Linked DNA regions of Homo sapiens: region 1 is linked to region 2. A link means that fine-mapping ties the variant in region 2 to the expression of a gene that starts in the linked region. Tissue or cell type: lung. Region 2 holds a variant in brackets; the other region holds the start of a gene. All regions are shown on one strand. Distances are between the middles of the regions.

Region 1 (8,139 bases), 780 kb after region 2:
CTCCTATCCAGTTCCTCCTGCCCACATCACCCACTGCAGACACTCTTGCCAAGTTCCTCAATGCCAGCGTTGCCAGCCTGGTGGCCACTCCTCAGGCCTTCTCTTGCCTCCCCAGCAGCCTGGCCATGTGCCCGCCCTCCTCCATTTTGAAAGAGTACCCTCAGCTCTATCAACACCTCCTCCCCTGGTTTACTTTCCTCCACTCTGGCTCCGTCCCTTGTGCCACCTTGATATTGCTGTGGCCCATCCTGGACCTACTTCTCATCAACACAGTCTCCCTAGGAGACTCATCCCTTCTTGAGGCTTAACCACCACCTCCACGTGGGATTTCCAAGCCCATATCTCTAGCCCAGTGTCCACCCTGAGTGCTGGACCCATATACCCATCTGACTCCTGAAGATCTTTACTTGGGTATAGTCTGGGAAATTTGAATTTCAAATGTGACCAGGATACTCACTGGCTTCCTTCAATAGTGACTGCTCCTTCTGGGCCCCCTCTGTCAGGAGTGGGCATCACCAACGCTAGTTGCCCAAGCCAGATCCTGGGAGTCATCACTAACATCTCTCCTCTCACTGATATGTGGGTGCCACCTCGCTTTGACATTTCTTAAGCTTTTCTCTCCTTCCTACCACCATCCCACTGCTGCCATGCCAGCTTTTATCATAGCTCCTGGGATTCCTTCCACAGACTACCTAATTCCACTCTGGCTGCCAGAGAGGTCCATGTGAAATGCAAATTAGCCCAGGTCACCCTTGGTTAGAAGCCTTTAACGGCTCCCCATTGTGCTGGGGAGAAAACCTAAACTCCCAGCCTCTTTGCTTCACACACACATACCCACTGCGCTTGGTCTTGAGCTCCAGCCAGACTGAAACCATGGAGTAGGTTTACCCTCTTTACCCTAATCCTCTCAATCCTACTAGTTCTTAGGGCTCAGCTTGACAGTCGCCTCCTCCTAGAAGTCTTCCTGCTGTCCAAGGTGCATTAGGGCTCCACTTCTATGCTCCCATAGCAGCTGTGCACAATAGCTTTCTTCCTACATCACAGCCACACTTTCTCTTCTTGTTTCCCACCCTGAGACCATAGAGTCTTTGAGGTCAGGAGATGTTCTTGTGGTTTAGCTTTTTTTAAAATTTATTTATTTATTTATTTATTTATTTATTTATTTATTTATTTATTTGAGACAGAGTCTTGCTCTGTAGCCCAGGCTGGAGTGCACTGGCACGACCTTGGCTCACTGCAGCCTCTGCCTCCCAGGTTCAAGCAATTCTCCTGCTTCAGCCTCCCAAGCAGCTGGGACTACAGACACCTGCCACCATGCCTGGCTAATTTTGTATTTTTAGTAGAGAAGGGGTTTCACCATGTTGGCCGGGATGGTCTCAATCTCCTGACCTCAAGTGATCCGCCCGCCTCAGCCTCCTCAAGTGCTGGGATTAGAGGCATGAGCCACCGTGCCCAGCCTATTTTTTGTATTTTTTCAGTGCTAGGAAATATTTACTGAAATTTAAGGATGGAAAGTCTGGGAGACCGACTCTAGGAGTGCTCTTGAAAGGAAATGGGTTACTCCATGTGTAGGTGTTGAAAATGTAAAACACAATATTATTTCTCCCTTTTTCCCTAATAAAACCCCAATTTTGTTCAGAGGACAGCAATAGTGTTAATTACACTTCTTAGCATCCTTTGCAGGGGGTAGCTATGTGACCCAGGTTTGGCCAAGAAGACTTAAGTAAAAGCAACTGTGCACGCAAGGGAGAGATTTGCTCCCTTGATGTAAGCATGGCCCCTTCCTGTTTCCTGTCTTCCACATCTTTCCTGGAATTAGGAGAGGAGGCTGGAGATGGAGCAGCCATCTTGTGACAATGAGCCAGCCACAGGGATGGGAACCACAGGCTAAGGAATCTTGAAGGGCCTAGGTCATGACCCCTGGACTACCTACTAGCAGACTTCTAATTATTGAGAGACAAATAAATCTCATTTAAGTCATTTTGGTTGGCTCTCCATTACATTTAGCTGAACTCCACCCAGTAAAGGTCAATGAAGGAAGATAAGCATCTGTGAGCATTTCTGAATAGGCTTTTCCTTTGGAGATGATGCTGGCGCTGACGGGAGGCAGAGGGCCAGGTTAATGGAACAGGACTAGGTGAGGGCTGGAGAGGCTGATCCTCCCAGGGGTTCTACCAGAGGATCACAGTGAGGCCTCAGGGTTTGAGAAAGAAGCTCCAGGCATGGTAGCCCTAAGGTGTCTGTGACCTTGGCCTGGGGGTTTTCTGGTCCCTGTTTGGTTCAACTTGCAAAATGGGGCTGTTGGACTAGACAACTTATCAGAAGGCATAGTGCTTCAAGTCTGGGCTTAGGAGTCAGACAAGGCTGAATTCAGGGTCCAGCTCCACCACTTGCTAGCTGTGTGGCTTTCAGACAGCTTTCTTAGCCGACTGCTCTAGCATCCTTGTTTGTGGAGTCCAGACTCCATCAGTACCTATACCTGTAGGGCTAACGTTGGGGCTTCATGAAATCATGCATGTGGGTGCTCAGCAGAGGGCCTGGTATGCCCAGCACACACCAAGTGCTCCATGCTGGTACCTGTCCTTGTGTGCCATGTTCTCCCAGTGGACAGATGGGACCTGGAATTCATGCCTCCTCTGGGGCTGGGGCTGGGGCTGCTACAGTGCTGTGGAAAGCCTGTCAGGATGTACCTCGCTCTGTGGCTGAGTGAAGAGGCCAGAGGCTGCCCACTGTTCAACATCTTTGGAATGCTGCCGTGTCCAGGGAACTTGGGTCGCAGGTGGATAGAAGCCCCCAAGCCCAGGCCAGGCCAGACCAGGCCCAGAAAGGTATCAGGTCTTGGGTAGAATAAGAAGCCTATGTGGTCTATCTATCCTGTGGCCTTTGTCTTAGCCAAAGCCTCCTGGATATTGACGGCATCTTTTCCTGGGTTTGGGGTGGGCTTGGAGAGGTTCCCTCTGCACGGGACTACAGAAGTGAGGGAGCTGGAAAAATGCCTCCAGAGCTGGATTCCTCACTGCAGCTGCTTTTGGAAGAACCTTCTTATCCTTCCCTTGAGAAGCCTCACTGTCTCTTCTCGGCGCTTGGAATCCTGTTAGTAGAAAATCTTGGGGAAAAAATAAACCCACTATTCATTCCAGCACTGAGAAGGAGGTCAGTGGGGTGCGTCCTGTTTGTCCACACCCCCCCCACCCCCTCTACCCCTCCCCCCAGCACCCCAGGCCAGACCCAGCCATGCTGACACTTGACAGCCCCTGCAGTTTACCTTGGCTCAGGTCCAGAGACTTCGGGCCCAGCCCCCACCTTTTCACCTTGTTACCCAGCCCCCTCTCCAGCGCAAAGAGCAGTTTAAATATAAATCAGTCCTCAACACAAACAGAGCTGCAGCGAGTCTCAGAGCCATCACCGGAACTGAGGGCCCAGGTTTTCTGCGAGTGCAAACAAGCAGAGACTGGCTCCGTAAATCTCCCCAAGAACGTCGGGAGGGGTGCTGGGGCTCCCCTCCACCCCCGGCTCACGTTGGCCCCTCCAGCGCCCGCCTCGGGCACCCTCATATCCCAGCCTTCCTGCCCCCCAGCCCTGCCAACCTCTTTCTCCATCCCCTCCACTCACCCACCTTCGCTTCGCCCACCCTCTCTTCGCCAGTCCCCAGGAACCTCCACCCCCTTGCAACCTCCTGCCCCCGCACAGCCCTCACCTCCCCTCCCCGGGCCCGCCACCTCCTTCCCTCCCTCTCCGCCTCCCGGCAGGCGGGATCTTCTCGGGGCAGTCAAGCCTCGCGGGTCGCTGCGGCGTCACACCTGTCTGAGGGGGCGGCGGCGGCGGCGGCGGCGGGGCGGGGGCTCGTAGCGCCTTTGACACCCGAGGAAAAGAGGGAGGAGGGAGAGCGCGTTTCATCATCGGCGGCGGCCACTTATAAAAACTTCTAGGCGCGCACTCGCTGGCTCAGTCTCCGCTCCGCGAATCTCCTCCGGCCACTGCCGCCGCGGTCGCCTCTCACCCGCCCGGCCGCTCCAGCCCGAGGCGCCCCGACCCCGCGCCACTCCGCGCCCGGCCAGCCGCCCGCAGCCATGGGGCTCCTGCCCAAGCTCGGCGCGTCCCAGGGCAGCGACACCTCTACTAGCCGAGCCGGCCGCTGTGCCCGCTCGGTCTTCGGCAACATTAAGGTGAGCGGAGTCCGCGGGGTCTTCCGGGCCGGAGCCGCGCCTGGCGCACCTTCGGCTGGGCACCCGCTTCTGTCTGCCGGAGCCAGGAGGCTCCGGGAGCCCCGGGCTCCCTCCTGTGCCGCGCTCCGATCTCATCCCCGGGCGACGCGTGCTGGGCGTGTGTGTGCGAGTGTGTGTGTGAGCGTGTGTGTGTGTGAGCGTGTGTGTGTGCGTGCGAGTGTGTGTGTGTGTGTTCACACGCCTTCATCGGACTAAGTAATGGGACAGTGGAAGTACCTGCTTACCGCTTACTCGGACAACTCCAGGCAGAGTTATAAGCGAGAGAATTGTCCTCGATGATTGAAAAAGATCATCTCGAGGAACGCTTTTTCGGCCTCCAGCGGGCGGTTACTTCGTCAATGGGATGGGCTTGGAGGTGCCAGGGGGACCCCCCGCGCTTTGGGGGACAGACTGTGTCTCGTCCGAGCCCCCTCGTCCTGGGGTGGGTGGCCTAAGGGATGTTCTCCTTCCCCAGGCTTTCTTCTCCCGCCAACGGGGGCGGGGGGCTCTGCTACCTGGCTGTGCCGCTCGCAGTTATGTTTAGAATTCCCTCTCAGCGGGCGGCTTCCCCAGGCTGGCAACCAACCCGCGTGCTCAGATTGGCTTCCCTGGTCTGGAAATGGCCCCAGGAAGGTCACAGCTCTCACGGTTCAGTAAGGTCTAAGCAGGTCCACTCACCAGGCAAGTTATGGGGAGCGGGTGAGAAGATAGGGTGTTGGCAGCTGTTAGGATGAGAGCACCTTTCCCATGGGGTCGGAAATGCTTTCCACTCCCTCACAGGTCCAGGAGGACCTGGAATGGTTCAATCCGCACTCGGGCTCTTTTGCCCGTTCTGCCTAGGCAGAAGTAACAATGGAAGATACCTCCTGAGAGGCCAAAGCTGCTGCGGTGAGGATGTGGGAGACTGCAGAGACTGCATCAAGGCCCCTTCTGGTCAGGGTGGGATCATGGTGTAGAGAGGTTGTTTCCCACAAACATACAGTCAGATGGGACTGAGTAAAGCCTCCGGTGGTGCAATTAAGGGGAAGCCAGATTACACAAAGGGATGATGGGGGTGTCCGTGGACTGGTTATATGTGTCCAACAGAAAGGGATCTGGAGGTCAGAGTGGATCTCACCTGCATACTTACTCAGCTGGGATCTCCACTCCTGCTTCTGCTCTTTCCGCACCGCAATAAATACAGGCTGAATTGATTTTGTAGTTGTATATGGATAAGCAACAGAAATTTTGAGATAGCTTAAAATAATCTCCAAATCTCCTCATTTTTGGCCAGACCTGGATGGAAATGTTGTGCGCAGTTTTGGTTCCACCATTTTGGAGAAATTTCATCAGGAATTTTGGAACCTTTGGTATTTATAAATTAGGAATTGAGATGAAAGGGTAGGGACTAGGATTAGATGGTGTAAAGAAAGGGGCCTCTGCAGGAACCAGGGTGGGGCAACCTCACTTCATTTTCACCAAGAAGGGCAGGAGGGACGGGTGTCCAGAACAGATTCCTGACAGTGAGGGTACAGCTGAATGAGACTGATCCGTTTAGACCCACCCTGGTTCCCTAAAATAAATGTTTATGGCAGCAATTTATTTGGAGATCTATATAAATAAGATGATTTCTCATGTGTTGATGATTTAACCACACGTACCTGAGGGCTGGGCTCAGGCCAATTGGCCTCCTAAAGGAGTTAAGTACTCATACTGGCTAAGAGTTTTTCTTGACTCTAAAAATGAGATTCTGTTAGTCATCACCTCCTTTGATCCATACTAATTGCAAGACCAGAGTTTGGAGGACTTCCATTTAACTCCACTTATCAGCCTGAAACCAGGTACGAGGTTGGATAGCTTAAGGTAAATCTTGAATCTCAAATTCCATCAGTTAAAGTCACTTGCACCTTTCCCTCCTGGGGCAATAACTGGGAGCTCTGCTATTTGAAGGGATATTTCCTCCCAATGAGAGTGCTTGTAATAGCCCTGCCACTTTGCAGTGGGGGATGGGTTGCACATATCTTGGGACATGTATGACATGGTGGTGTAGCAGGACGAGCCACAGACAAAACTCCTCAGACACTGAGTTAAAGAAGGAAGGGGTTTATTCAGCCGGGGGCATCAGCAAGACTGCTGTCTCAAGAGCTGAGCTCCCCGAGTGAGCAATTCCTGTCCTTTTTAAGGGCTCACAACTCTAAGGGGGTGCACCTGAGAGGGTCGTGATCGATTGAGCAAACAGTGGGTACGTGACTGGGGGCTGCATGCACCAGTAATTAGATCGGAACAAAACAGAATAGGGATTTTCACAGTGCTTTTCTGTACAATGTCTGTAATCTATAGATAACATAACCGATTAGGTCAGGGGTCGATCTTTAACTACCAGCGCTAGGGTGCGGCTCCGGGCTGTCTGCTTGTGGATTTCATTTCTGCCTTTTAGTTTTTACTTTTTCTTTCTTTGGAGGCAGAAATTGGGCATAAGACAATATGAGGGGTGGTCTCCTCCCTTATTCCCCTCCTTTGAGATTCTCACTCAATAGTGGGAGTTCTCACTTTCATTTTTACTACCTGTGTCTTCTTGCAAGACAGATCGATAGTGATTCATATAGTACACTTGTGCTGAACCTTTTTGGTGAACTAAGGTAGCGATGAAGCTTTTTATCATTTGAAGAAGTATAGGTAGCAAACAAGGGAGCAGTAAGCAGGTTCCTATTACTATTATAACTCTTATTATTAGAGTTTTAAATTCTCTTAGCGCTGGGAACCATTTTCTAAACATGGCCCCAGGATCAAATCCATGCCACACTTGCACAGGCACATGTGCCAGTTTTGTCATATCTCTTAACTGTGTCTTCAACTACTTGCCCTTGATTATCTATATGTAGGCAGCAATTAGAAAGGTTAAATTTCCTACAGACCTCTCCTTCAGCTGCTAGCAAGTAGTCAAGAGCTAATCTATTTTGATAGGTAGCATTTCTCATCTGAGTTTCTTGCTGGGCCAGAATAGTCAAGGCTCTGCCGGTTTTATTAGTGATTATTTTTAAGACAGCTTGTAACCGTATGATTCAGTTGATCACGTAAATGGGGGTCTGGTATCCTCACAAGCCGTCTTGTGCCTAGCAGGCCTATAATATTGTATGATTTTCTCAGGGGGCCATTTATCATTTTTTCAATTTCCTATAGCTATGCTTCTCTTTTCGCGGGAAGCATAGACAGGGAAGCCCAGGAGTTCGCCTGTTTTTATGGGCAGTAGGAAAAAGATGGTTTAATAGTGCCAATAACAAAACTACCTGCCTACTGGTCAGGTAATTTGGCGTAAGCTCTATGCCTACGTATCTAGTATAATCCAGTGGGGGCTGTCTAGTCCCGGTGGGACTCCGGGTGGGTCCACACGGTTTGCAACTTTGGGAATTTACTAAATGGATTTCTCTCTGTGTGATTAGAACTCCACCAAATGACTGTTTTTGTGATACCATTATAAGTTTCTGTCCTAGACAAAGAAGTCGTCCTATGGGGTGAGTAAATTCTTTTCCTTCTCTAGCTATGCAATATTGTCCAATAATTGAGGCTTTTAGGACCTAGAAATTATCAGGGTGATTCTTCTGAGCTGGGAATTCATCAGGAACTGGGTCTGTAGGTACTAATTCTCGGGCTTCCCATGGTCATTGATCTCTTATTACAGTTCCTCCACATACATAACATGAAGTGACATTGAGAGAACATGCTCAGCTAATTGCAAAAACAAATTTCTTGTTTTTCCTGGAATTTCTGGTACTGGCACATTTAGTTCATCATAGAAAGTTTGAAACACTGGCTTAGGAGAGCGTTTGTAAACTTCTCTTCAAACCAAGATATTTACTCGAGGATCCAGTCCAGCCCCATTGATTCCTAAGGTCACACGCTCCTCTTTTTTCCAGCGAGGATCAAGGGGATTGGTTATTACTAGCTCTAAGGGGTT
Region 2 (8,000 bases):
GGATCTCATTTCCCTCTATGGATGACCATTCCACCAGGCTTGGGCCAGGAGCTGTCCACCAGAATCAATCGTAACCACCATTATAAGAACAGCTTGTGTTTCCAGAGCACATCCCAGTTTACAAAGCATTTCCCATACATGGGCTCTGATTCCTACTCAACAACCTCTTACTGAAGAGCTCAAAGAGAAAGAGGTTGGACCACATCATCCCCAATGGACAGGTAATGAAACTGAGAATGAAACTTCAGAGAGATTAGGTGGCTTTCCAAGGTCACGCAGCTGGTAAATGTGAGCCAGTTCTCTGACTCCCAATAGCAGCCTCTTGCATGGATTCATACCTTCAGGTCTAAGGCCACGGTGGGGACAGAAACTACAGAGCTCCATGTGCACTCCTCTGCCAGGACAGGGAAGTGTGCCACCCACTTCCAGCCCTCCACATGGCCTCAGCTCTGCCACGCTGGCCAGAAGCCTGAGAACCAGGTGCTGGGTGAGCCATGGCACCCGGCCCTCTAAACGGTGAAGGAGCTGTGACGACTAGAATTGCAGGCAATACTGACATTGTTCTACAGAGGAGAGAAAATGTCAGTGAGTACACTGTCCAGTGCCCCCCAATTCCTGGGGCCACAGAGAGGGGAATGGGCTGACTGGGGCCTTCAAACTTTATTTTTATTTACAAAAACAGGCAGCCCATAGTCCATGGTTTACAGAATTTGATTTAAAAAAAAAACTACATTCATATATTACTTACCTTGATTAATCTTTAGTGCCCCCTTAAACTTTGCTCCAAGTGGCTGCCTCCTTCTTCTTACCCTAGTCCCTGTTCCTCCCTTTTCCCACAAACTGGAATCCTGGTGAGATGGGAGGAAGTCCTGGAGACGGCAGAGAAGGCAGCAGTGGTCCACAGGCCCTTTCCTTGCTCTGCTGGGTCTGCTAGGAATTCGTCCAGACCTGCTCACACTGAGGGTGAGTGCCCCAGGAAGCCCTGCTGCCTAACCACTGAGACGCCTGCGACTCTTGGCCATGATACGTCATGTCAGGTTACTGAACATCGCCCCAGCACACGTGCCTGAATATCAGCTTTTCTAAGCTGCTTAGAACATTGGCCCTCCAAGTCTATGGGAGTAGGCAAGGACTACACACCAGCAATAGATGGGCCAGACAAGGTATTGGCAAGCAGAAGAATGATTTAGGGATCAATTTTCCCAGAGGAGGGTGCCTGGGAATCTGTTTCAAATGAAAAGAGAGATACAGAAGAAATGACAATACTAATAACTACCACGGGCTTTAAACACCTTATCTCATCTATCTCACAACGATCATGTGAGGTGAGTACCACCATCCCCACTTACGGGACGAACACACAGAGGCCATAACTGGGAGGTTATGTAGTTTGTTCAGTGTCAGAGGTGGAATTCAAATCCAGACCTGTCTGAATCCAACACTCAACTGCTTCAGGAAAAAAATCCAGCCAGGCACGGTGGCTCACACCTGTAATCCCAGCACTTTGGGAGGCGAGGTGGGCGGAGCATTTGAGGTCAGGAGTTCGAAACCAGCCTGGCCAACATGGTGAAACCCCGTCTCTACTAAAAATACAAAAAAAACAAAAAAATTAGCTGGCTGTGGTGGTGTGTGCCTATAATCCCAGCTACTCGGGAGGCTGAGGCATGAGAATCGCTTGAACCCAAGACGTGGAGATTGCAGTGAGCCGAGATCACACCATTGCACTCCAGCCTGGGTGACAGAGCAAGACTCTGTCTCAAAAAAAAAAAAAAAAACAGAAACAGAAAAAGAAAAAAGAAAAAAAGTACCTCAGAGGCAGAAGGACAACGTGCAGAGGACACGGCGTGTGGCCCCAGCATTTACCTTTGGTGGTTACTTAATCTTTCTGCATCCCAATTTCCATGCCCCCCAAAAAACAAATGTGTGCTGATAAATAAATATGGCACAATAACAACAACTGTTGAAACTAGGGGCAGGGGCTGTGGCATGGGTGTTCACTTCAGCATACTTTTGACTTTTCTATACTTTTGGAAATATTCATAATAAATTTGGAAAACAACAAAATGTCCCCAGGTCAAAACTGATATATGACCCCATCAAAGAAAGTCCCTGGCATCAAAATAGCTGAATAAAAATAGCTACATTAAACAGCTGCACCAACCCTCCACAGCATTGTGGGAATATAAATTGGTTCAGCCTTTTTAGAGGGCAACTTGCAACATCCATCAAACTTTGAAACAAGGCGCACTGTTTTCTTAAACTTTTTATTTTAAAGAAATAGCAATCACACAAGAAAGTTGCATGAATGGAACCAGAAACCCCCATATTCCTTTTACCCTGATTCACCAATTTTTAACATTTTGCCACATTTGCTTTTTCATCTTCTCTTTCCTCACCACATATATTTTATGGTACAATAGGATATATCATAATATGATATTACATATATATTTTATTATATACACATTTATTATATTATATACACACATTCATCTGTTTATTTTCCTCCTTGAGCCACCTGAGAGCAGGTAGCATACATCATGGCCATTTACTCCTTAATTCCTCAATATTTGTTTCCTAAGAACAAGAATATTCTCTTATTTGACCACAATGCAGTTACAAATTTGGAAATATTAACATTTTGTTATAATACTTTCATCTAAGGAGACCCACTCCCTGAATTTTGGAAGGCTATATTCCAATTTTGTTTGTTGTCCAAATCATATCCTTTAAAGCAATTTCTTAGTATAGGGTTTGTTACATTAACTTGTCATGAATCTTAAGTATTCTTTAATCTAGGATAGCTCTTTTTAAAAATTGCTCAAAATAAGCTTGTTAATTTATTTAAAGAGGCTGCTTCCCTGATGCAGAAGTTTAGAGACTGGGACTCTCGATCCAGGCACAACTGAATTTAGTTGTTTTGAGGTGAGGTCTGAGGGTCTGCATTTCTAACAAACTCCCATGGGAACCCAAGCCCTGGCCCAAAGGCCACACACCGAGTGGTGACACCAAAGAAGACCGTCTGTGAAGAGCTGGTCCAGACCACCACAAGATGCACTTGCTTTCCTCTGAATGAAGCTTCGTCTGCAATGGCAACTGGACCCTGGGACTTGGGACGCAACAAGATGCAGAGCCTTCCCTCACAGGAACTCCTCCTGGGCTTTCTAGAGCCAGGAAGTCCAAGACAGAGAGGCACAAGTCACTGAAGAAGGCTTTTCTGCAGGTTCCCCATTTCGGATGATTCTGGCCCAGGACAGGGAAGCCTGTTGAGAAGAGAATTCCTATGCCCTGCCTTTTCTATCAGCATCAATCCACTATACCTTCAATAGGTACCTCCTCCTCCAGGAAGCCATCCTGGTTACCATAGCCCACTCTAAACTAACTGTCCCCTGACCTCCTACATCACCGAGCCCCTGGCTATATCACGGAGCACTTACTTGAATGTAATTGCTATTTCAGGTACCTTTTCTTTCCCTTCTCCTTGCTTCTGCTTCTGCTACTTCTCACTCATGATATGCATCCTCATCACTCTCCCCTCTACATGTTCAAGGCCCAGCTTATCCATAAGTATACCCTAGCAAAAAGTCTCTTCAATGACAGATTCCTTGCCTGAACCATCTTCAGGTATCTCCATCCAGCAACAGGTATATCAGTCTGATCTCCACAACCAGACATTCAGGTTTCCTATGCTTCCATTGCTTCTGTTTGCCACAAGTCCCTGGTTTTCTTGCCACGGTGGCATGCGCATCAGCCTCTCCCTGAGTGATCCTGGGCAGTGTGACAGGAGTTCAGTCCATCCATCCATCATTTACTAAGTGCCTACTCTGTGCCAGGCCCCGGGGTAGACTCTGGGGGCCCTCAGGGAGTCTCAGACAGTGGGGGTGCCTGCTTTTCTCAGAGCCAGAAGTGATGCAGCGTCAGCATCAGCTGCATCTTTGCTTTTGAGCATAAAAGGTGCTTGTGGGAAGTGACACAGGGCCCAGCTGATGGGCCCTGATGGTACCACTGCAGCCTTTGCATCCTTGTCATGTGTCACCTCCCCCATGATTACTGTGATCACTGATTGTCATCATGCAAATAACAGCAAACATGGCTGAAGTGCCTACATCATCCCCAGTGTTGGAAAGCCTGTAGAATCCTGAGACTGTCATTGAAAGCTAAGAAATGAGCCAAAGGCATTCTCTATGGCTTGAATGCAACAAGAACCAGAAAAGCTGGAAACCTCTTGGGAGTCAGAGCAGCTGAGAAAAAGGTGATGAACAGCCTCGGACACTCACAGTGTCCTATCAAATGGGCCCAGTCCTGAGAGTCCAGGGCTGGGCTAGGGGGTGCTTCCTCTGCATGGTTTCAGACCACCATTCACAGGACAATCTGTGCAGAAAAATTATACTTTTCTTCTCTAAAAGAAAGCCCCAAACCAAAAGATACCTGTCCCTGGAGAAGCAGGACCCTTGGGAATTTCTAGCTGATTTCTGCTGCCACCAC[C/G]ATGGAGGTACAGCTGCTCCTGCAATGCCAAGTAGAGGCAGGAGAATGCCCTTCCTTTCTACTGAGCAGTGTGATGGAGATGAGATTGGAACTGGAGGGAATGTATGGGAAATAAACACAGAGTAGCACAATCCCAGGTCATGTGAATTATGGCTTCCTGCTGAGGCGCACACACTCCCCTAACAAAAGCCCACTTTCTGAGGTCCTGGCCCCTGTTTGGGGGCATATTTCTTCCCTGATCATAAACCACCATCCATGTTGAGAAGATCATGGCCCACTCTTCCCCACTTCCAGGAATGAGACCCACCCAGCACAGGTACAAATTATGTCTTCTCGGCACAACAGGGCAACCCAAATTGTCTGGAAATAGTGTGAGTGGGGTCACTCTGTCACCTCCAGACAACCGTCCATGTTGAAAGCAGACCCAAAACAGAAAACCCAACAAAAAAAATGGACAAATATCTAAACATCCATTTCATCGGAGAATATATATGAGTGGCTAATAAACACATGAAAGACACATCAGGGAAATGCAAACGAAAACAAACAATGAGATGCCATGAGACACCCACCAGGGTGGTTAAAATTTAAAGACTGAAAATACCAACTGCTGGTGAGGATGTGGAACAACTGGGGGTCTCATACACTGCTGGAGGAAATGCAAGACACTTCAGCCACTTTGGAAAACAGACTGGCAGTATCTTACCAAGTTAACCTTACACTTACCATATTATCCAGGTATTTCCCCAAACAAAATGAACACCTATTTTTCATTTTGTGTTCACATAAAGACATGTACTCAAATATTCACAGTAGCTTTAATTATAAAAGCCAAAAACTATAAGCAAATGTCCACCAACTGTGAAATGGATAAACCAATTGTGAGATATCTATGCAATGGAATGCTACTCAGCAATAAAAAGAAAGTATAACACATGCCACAAAATGGATGAATCTCAAATACTCATGCTAAGTGAAAGAAGTCAAACAAATAAAGAGCACATACTCTATGATTCCATTTCTATGAGCTTTTAGAAAAGCAAAACAATAGAACCAGAAATTTTATCAGTGGTTGCCAAGGGTCAGCAGTGAAGGGAGGCACATGACCATGAAGGGACATGAGGGTGATGAGAACGATCTACATCAGGTGTGTAGGGTGGCTACATGACCACACTCATTTGTGAAACCTCACGGAATTGTACATCTAAAACCTATTATATGTAAATTATGCTTCAAGAAAGCCTATTTTTTTTCCAAAAATGGACCCCAACTCAAGTAACTATTTTCACATCCCTTGAAGTCAGGGCAGACATTCAGCGAGTAGGCACTGGCATAGCCGTCCGTACTTGTTAAAATCCTGAAATGCTTCCACACCTACTGGCAAGTCACTCCTGCCCAAGGCTTCTGAGTTACTCCTGTGCTCTCGTCCTTATCTGGGTCCTTCTGGATCTCCCTAGGATATCCAACAGCAGGGCTAATACCTGCTCAATAGGGGGCCTCCTGGACCAGCTAAGGTGGACATCCTTTCCGACTGTTTAGGGCCATACTGGGTAAAACTGATTTGGAAAAGATAGATGGTGCAAAGCTGAGCTCTAACTCGGCTGAGGGCCCACTAAGTCGCTGCCAGGTTTATTGTGTTTAGATCATGCATTCTCAGCAAAGGTGAAAACTGATTCCTGGCAAGGAGGAAGACTAAAAAGTCTTAGATCTTATAACGGTTTGTGGCCCACCAAAGGGCCTCAGTACATGAACAGATGTCCACAATATCTGTGCTATTAACATTCACAGGGTGTGGGGTGGTCAGGAAAAAAAAAAAGTCTTAAAAAGGCTTCTTAGGCCGGGCGCATTGGCTTATGCCTGTAATCCCAGCACTTTGGAAGGCAGAGGCAGGTGGATCACCTGAGGTCAGGAGTTCAAGACCAGCCTGGCCAACATGGTGAAACCCCGTCTCTACTAAAAATACAAAAATTAGCCAGCCATGGTGGTGCTCGCCTATAATTCCAGCTACTCGGGAGGCTGAAGCCGGAGGATTGCTTGAACTTGGGAGGCAGAGTTTGCGGTGAGCTGAGATCGCACCATTGCACTCCAGCCTGGGGACAGAGCAAGACAGAAAAAAAAAAAAAAAAAAAAACCTTCTTAGTAGGGGCAACTATGAGAATAAGGAATAAGGTTGAGAAATGCTGGTTTAGCTGCAAGAACTCTGTGATAGTGAGAACCTGGACACCACAGCCCCAGCCCCCAGACCTGAGAGTGGAATTCTCACCTGGGAGGCTAACCTGTGCAGAGGGTGTTGTGGGCATGTCTAGGTGGGAAGTGAGAGATCAGCTGGGAATGTGGGAAAGGGGGAGGGGCCACACGAGCCCTCACAGTCCTTTATGGGACTCCCCTTCTGGGGAAAAGCAGTCGCTCACTCTCCCTCCTATGAAAGTCTTTAACCCAACTCAACTCAGCAAATACTCAGGAGGACCCCTGAGAACCAGTACCCTGCTAGGCTTAGGCTAAATATATAGAGAGAGATGGCTGCAACTAGGACTGCACACTCAAGCCTAGCAGAGAGACACATAGAAACCCAAAGACTCCCACCCTTTGCTCCCAACATCTTATCTTTCCATTCCTATCTGGAGTCCACGATGGCAGAACTGCACCCAAAACATTCGGAGTTTTCAGCTGGTGTAAGTAATGAAGACAACTTCTAAATTAGTAAGTGCTATAGCTGAGTCCCCGGCTTTGTCAAGCTCAGCTGAACCAGAGCCTCCTTGGAAACACTTGCTTTGTACGCTGATACATTATGACAATACTATAATTGTTCTCTCAGTCTTTTCCCAGATATTTAATAACAACGTGAAGTGGGAGTTGCAAAGGTCAGTCCTCCTGTAGAATGAGCGTTGTTCTCATTGTCCTTTCCTGAATAGCGTCTTCCATTTGCCAGGCTGTTCTATGCCAGTGAGCCCTGGTGGTGGAGGCCTGGTGCTGTTAAAGAAGCAGCACCACCTACTCAGGGCAGAATATTCTAATTTGCTAAATGGTCCAGTGTCACTGTCTGTCTACATCATCTGCATAAATACACACACACACACACACACACACACACACACACTCCTCCTGTGCTACCCACGCTTCAAGCCCGTGAATGGAAAGAATGTTAATTGCCAAAAACCAGAGAAACCAGGTGATATACATATTTGCATACTCACTTGGGCAGTTACTCTTGTGCTCTGGTTAGGTGAGAAGATTTATCTCCTAGGACCTCAGATCAACAGAGTCACATACCTATGTTAAAACTTCCATTATGTTGAAAGCTCACAATAGTTGACAAATGGGTCTCTCTTAGCAGGATGCAGTATGTGAGCAAGGACTAGGAAGCAGCAGTGCCCTGAGCTCTCATCTCTCCTTGGCATGTTCCAATTGCCTGCCTGATCTTGTGGTAGTCATTCCTCCTTAGTGAACCTCAGCTGCCACATCCATTAAATGGACCTAATTCGCTGCCTGTCCAAAGACAGGACTCTCTTCCAATG

What was found. PIP is the estimated chance that this variant, and not a neighbour inherited with it, causes the effect.
Region 1: SLCO2A1 starts here. The variant in region 2 is fine-mapped to the expression of SLCO2A1 in lung (TOPMed, PIP above 0.99).

The regions. Positions count from the first base shown.
Region 1 is chr3:134,025,734-134,033,872 of GRCh38, reverse strand. SLCO2A1 (solute carrier organic anion transporter family member 2A1) reads left to right here and starts at 3,948. Exons shown (of 14, transcript NM_005630.3): 1 at 3,948-4,166. The coding sequence starts at 4,071. RefSeq lists an enhancer at 3,453-3,953.
Region 2 is chr3:134,809,859-134,817,858 of GRCh38, reverse strand. All of the region lies in intron 1 of EPHB1 (EPH receptor B1), which reads right to left. Among named protein-coding and RNA genes, the nearest start is that of EPHB1, 19 kb to the right of the region's middle. The variant C/G (reference allele first, on the strand shown) is at 4,486.